Regions from separate parts of the Homo sapiens genome. Here region 2 is linked to region 1. Evidence: fine-mapped expression QTL. Tissue or cell type: lymphoblastoid cells. Region 1 holds a variant in brackets; the other region holds the start of a gene. All regions are shown on one strand. Distances are from middle to middle.

The links. PIP is the estimated chance that this variant, and not a neighbour inherited with it, causes the effect.
Region 2: MOCS1 starts here. The variant in region 1 is fine-mapped to the expression of MOCS1 in lymphoblastoid cells (GTEx, PIP above 0.99).

What each region holds. Positions count from the first base shown.
Region 1 is chr6:39,888,151-39,890,912 of GRCh38, reverse strand. It overlaps DAAM2 (dishevelled associated activator of morphogenesis 2), which reads right to left. Exons shown (of 25, transcript NM_001201427.2): 17 at 2,150-2,234. DAAM2-AS1 (DAAM2 antisense RNA 1) reads left to right here. Exons shown (of 4, transcript NR_125831.1): 4 at 1,858-2,123. Among named protein-coding and RNA genes, the nearest start is that of DAAM2-AS1, 7.8 kb to the left of the region's middle. RefSeq lists an enhancer at 2,065-2,762. The variant G/A (reference allele first, on the strand shown) is at 1,094.
Region 2 is chr6:39,933,392-39,936,153 of GRCh38, reverse strand. MOCS1 (molybdenum cofactor synthesis 1) reads left to right here and starts at 1,692. Exons shown (of 11, transcript NM_001358530.2): 1 at 1,692-1,859. The coding sequence starts at 1,737. It overlaps LOC102723789 (a long non-coding RNA gene), which reads right to left and starts at 1,585. Exons shown (of 6, transcript XR_001744112.1): 1 at 1,511-1,585.

The DNA.
Region 1 (2,762 bases):
CTCACTACGTAGCCCTGGCTGGTCTTTACCTCCCGAGCTCAAGCAGTCCTCTCACTTCAGCCTCCAAAAGTGCTGAGATTATAGGTGGGAGCCACCACGTCTAGCCTAAAGTACACTATTCTTCAATGTACAGCTCAGTGATTTTTCTTTTCTTTTAAACAAACTTGAGGTATAGTCTACATAAAATAAAATGCACCCATTTTAAATGTGCAGTTCAGTGATTTTTGTCAAATCTCCATCCATTGAATCATCATTCAGATTAAGATAGAGAACATTTCCATCCCCCAGGAAAGTTATTTTTCATCACTTCAGTAAGCCATTCAAGTGAATATAGGCTCTCAACTGAATTCTAGGACCTTAGCCAGATTTGCCTGTCCTTGAACTCATGCTGTATGCTCTCTTTTATGTCTGACTTCTCCCCAGCATAATGTCTAAGGTTCATCCATGTCATGGTAGTTTATTTATTGCTGAGTAGGATTCTACTGTATGAATATACCACAGTCTACTTATTCACTTTCCTATTGATGGACAGTTGGGTTGTTCACAGTTCGGGGAATTTATAAATAAAGTTGCTATAAATAGAGTTGGCCCCTGAGTAACACAGGGTTGAACTGTGCAGGACCACTTGTATGTGGATTTTCTTCTGCCTCTGCCATCCCTGAGACAGCAAGACCAACCATTCCTCTTCCTCCTCCTCAGCGTGAAGACAATGAGGATGAAGACCTTTATGATGATCCACCTCCACTCAATGAACAGTGTCTTTTAATGATTTTTTTTCTTTTTTTTTGATGGAGTCTCACTCTGTTGCCCAGGCTGGAGTGCAATGGCACCATCTCACCTCACTGCAACCTCCGCCTCCTGGGTTCAAGTGATTCTCCTGCCTCAGCCTCCCAAGTAGCTGGGACTACAGGCATGCACCATCACACCTGGCTAATTTTTGTATTTTTAGTAAAGATGGGGTCTCACCATACTGGCCAGGCTGGGCTTGAACTCCTGACCTCAAGTAATTTGTCCACCTCAGCCTCCCAAAGTGCTGGGATTACAGGCATGAGCCACTGTGCCCGGACTTCCTTCTAATAATTTTCTTAATAAC[G/A]TTTTCTTTTCTTTAGCTTACTGTGTTATAAAAATACAGCATATAATACATGTAACATAAAAATATGTGTTAATTGGTTGTTTATCTTATCAGTAAGGCTTCTGGTCAACAGTAGGCAATTAGCGGCTAAGTTGTTGGGAAGTCAAAAGTTATATGTGGATTTTTGACTGCATGGAGGGTCAATGCCTCCAGCCCCCACATTATTAAGGGTCAACTTTATTCTTGTGTATTTATTTTAGTCAGTATTTGTACTCATTTCCCTGGAGTTATACCTAAGAGTGGGATTACTAGGCAATAGGGCGGGTATATGTTTAGCTGTAGAGTGTACTTCCAAGTAGTTTTCCAAAATAATTGTGCCAAATGAGAATTCCAATTGCTTCACATCCTCGTCAGCACATGGCATTGTCAGTCTTTTTAATTTTAGCTACTCTAGTGGGTGTGTGGTGCCCCCTTATTGTGGTTGACTGTATTTCTCTGATAACTAATCATATTGAACACCTTTTCATATTCTTATTGTCTATTTGGAAATCCTCTTTCATGAAGCACCCCTTCAAGTCTTCTGCTCATTTTTAAGTTGATTTCATCATTTTCTCATTGATTTGTAGAGTTCTTTGTTCTGAATATGATCTTTGTTATATGTATGTATAGCAAATATCTTCTTCTAAGGTTTGTCTTCTTTTCACTCAGTAACCATGCCCTTGATGAACAGAAGTTCTTAACTGTAATGAAGTCCAATTGATGATGTTTCTTTGTGTGTTTTCTAGGTTTCCCAAAGGATCCAAAAAACTGAGAGGGAAGAGATTTGGGGAAGATGTCACTTTTCCTCATCTGACTTTGCCTTGGAGTCAGATGGGAGAATGACTCCTGGAGAACACTTAGCCTTTTCCAGCTTTCCCCAAGAAAGGCTGGCCCAGGGAGGCTTCTATAAACCTTCTCCCTAACTCTTCCAGCCTGATTTCTCCTTGACCCAAGAATCGCAGCCTCCTGGGGGCTGTTGGGAAGGGGCGTGGCTGCCCGCTGGGTTCAGTTCCCCTTCCTTCCCACGAGGGTCCTCACCTGCTCCAGCATGTCCTTAGCAAGGTCCTCCTGCTCATCCATCTTCAAGATGGCCTGCCGGATCTCCTCGTTAGAAAGCTTCAACCTAAGGCAAAACCCCACCTCAATCCAGGACAGCCCTCAAACCTTCTTCTCCAAAAGGTACCACCTCCGCCTTCCCTCATTCCCTAACAGGACTTGGGAATATATTTAATAGTATTCCCCCCTCACCTCCTCTACAAAGCCTTCTTAGATTAGACTAGTATGATTCAGTCCACAAACTTGATAATGAGCATTTTAGTGTCAAAATAGAGACGTGAGGGTCTCTGTTCTCTTGATAATCCATCAGAGCTGATAGGGGCATTTGGGAGTAAAAGAGATGTCTTCAATGTAGACCAAAGGGACAGGGCAAAGGGTTCCTGATCCTTCTCCTCCTCCTCATGCTTAAAAAATGCACAGCATCTCCACGGGAGGACAGGATTATCGGCAAGCCACTAAGAGGGCAATTTCCTGCTGCCTTCATTCTCAGAACACAGAATCGCTCTCAGTCTTCTGACAGCGCCTCAGCTCCCACACAGCTGTCCCAATCAGTCTTGCTGTCTGGGAGAGGGAGAAGCCACACACCCCCATAGCC
Region 2 (2,762 bases), 45 kb before region 1:
AAGTTTCCCAGCACTACAGGAGTCCAAGTAGATGTATGATAATATGGAGAGGATTTCAGCCTTCAAACAGAACTGAGTAAGCCTTAGGTCTTGCCTTGGAGACCCAAGTTCTATAAAAGATGACAGTAAAGCCCAAGTGAAGGGATGATCACATACAACTTGTATGAAGAGGGTGGAATCTAGAGAGGCTCCAAGGAGCTGGTGACATTCTTGGATCAAGTTCATATGTCAGATGGCTTCTTCCCTGAGGTTGAGTCCTCTCTAGAAGGCTCTTCAAGCCTCATACATACAAAAAAAAAAAAAGTTTTTATCCTTCTCTCCCCCATACCCAGTTTTCCTGATAAATCCAGACATATCTAAACTTAGCAGTGGACAGAGCTTGAACAGTCCTCAGTTGGTCTTCAGGCCCCTTGCAAACAGACCTCTGGCATACTTGTCTCATCAGTTTCAAACACACCCCAGATACACTTTCATCCCCTACAATATATTTTCTGAATTTTGAGTATCATTGTGAGAAATTCACATTGAATCTAAGGCTAAAATCATCTCAGCTTTTCTGACAGTCCCACTGCACTTGTAAAAGTCAGTTATATTCAGTTATTTTTTCCTCTCCCACTATTCGGTCAATTCTTCAAGATCAGGAGCTATATTCCCACTTCCTAAGCATGCACTTGGCAGCTGTATGTTCCAGCCGGTGTTTTATTCTTGCAATTCCACAGGGACAGGGTTTTGGATACAACAGGCTGGTTTGAGCATAATTATTCTTAGTACATAAGCTCATTATTGTGTGTGTTATCCAAAATCTTAAAGGACTACAGCACTCTGCTTTTTATAGAGAGGAAGAGGCACACCCCACCATTCCTAACACATACTGAATCTTGACTGAATGACTGTAGAAAGCAGATTGCCCTGGGTTTGAAACCCACTATCAGCTGTGTGACTTCGAGAAAATTACCTGGTCTCTCTAAGCCTCAATGTCCTCAGTTGCAAAAAGGACATTCTATTCATACCAGGATTGTTTTAAATAACATTTAGCATGGTGCTTGGTGTATAAGAAGCATTTCAAAAATGTTGTCCACTCATTCTGTGACTTCTCATATACTCTTGCCTTCTCCACGAAAAAAAAAAAAAAAAAAAAGATTGTTAATATCCTTTTGGGGCACAACTGGAGAAGTGTATCTTGAAAGACCTAACTGACCGTTTTACAACCACAATCTGCACTATGGTGCACTGAGTGATGTGAGTCATGCAAGTGTAGGCTAAATCTTTTTATTTAGAATGTTGATATTTCACGGACTTCTGAAAATTTATTACGATTTTTTGAAATATTACATTAAAAAATTACTTACTTTGATAACCGCAGTTTACCTGGCACCCTCTTAAATTTTGCATCCAAGGCAGTGCCTCATTCGTTTGGCCCTTGTCCTGTCCTGCCTACTGTCACACCACGACCTAAATCTGAGACTAGAGCAGCCAGAAAAACTGGAAGGAAAAGAACCCCGTTCCTTACCTGAGTTTACCCTTCTGCCCTAGAGCGCTACCCCGGCCCAGGAAAGTGGGCACAGGGAGCGTACTACAGCTCCCACAAGGCCACGCGGGACTGCGTCCTCGCCTATTGGCTGCGCGGGTCCCGCCCTCCCCCTGCCCCTCCCCGCCCTTGCTGGGATGACCCCGGGGGCGAGTGCCCGGCCAGTGTGCTCCCGAAGCGGGCTGCGGTTCCGCTCGTATCAGGCTTCATGGCGGCGCGGCCACTGTCCCGGATGCTGCGGCGGCTTCTGAGGTCCAGCGCCCGGAGCTGCAGCTCAGGGGCTCCGGTGACCCAGCCCTGCCCCGGGGAGTCCGCGCGAGCTGCCTCGGAGGTGAGCCCACCCCGCCTGCGTCCACAGCTTCCCGGGGCAGGAGTGGCCCCGGCACACTGCCCTTTTCCCCCAGTAGCTCCCGGCCTATCTGCTTGACCGCTTCTGGGAGGGACCCGTTGGCACTCCTCAGTGGAGCGATGTTCTCCAGATGGACCGCCCGGTCTCACCCGCTAGCCCAGCGGGAGAGGTTCCTGGGAGTCCCGCTTCAGAACCTCCCTGCCCCCCAGCCACGCCACCCCTTCTAGCCCTGAGCTTGGCCAGAAATTCGGGTAAGCAGAGGACTGGGACTTTGGGTCCAGTGAGGTGTCTTAGTACCTTTCAGCCTTGCCTTGCACCCACCCTCTTTCTTAAACATTTTCCCTCCCTATCCCAAGAGCTGAGAGATCAGGTGTCCCTGTGACACCTGCTTCATAGTGCGACTGACTAAACATGTCACCTCGGTGTCACCAACGATGAGTTGTTACTGTAGTCCCAGGGCTCTGTAACCCATCCTTTGCTGACTCTCCTTGTCTTTTTTATTAACCTTGGGAGGGTTCAGCCTTATCCTAGAGCAGAACAGGGCAGGACGTGGCTTCTTCCAGGTGAGAAATTAATTCCTCTGTCTTTAGGGTTTTGGGTAAGATCCCTCAGTCCTTGCCAGCACCCCTCAGAGTGTTTCAAGTCATTAAAAGTTTTAGGTTTTGGTTGTTCTTCTGCTCAGGTGGTTAGGGAATAATTTGGGGGGAAAAGTACCTCTTTTCATTTAGTGAAACCTCTTTTCGGTACCTATCTAGGCGTTTTTTTCCCCGTCTCCCAGAACTAGGCTTCCTGTCCTGGGATTCATAAGATCACTGCTCCCTCCTCCCCTATATTGCTCAATGACTTCCGCCAAATTTGCTTTCCCCAAATCTAAGCCCCTCTGGG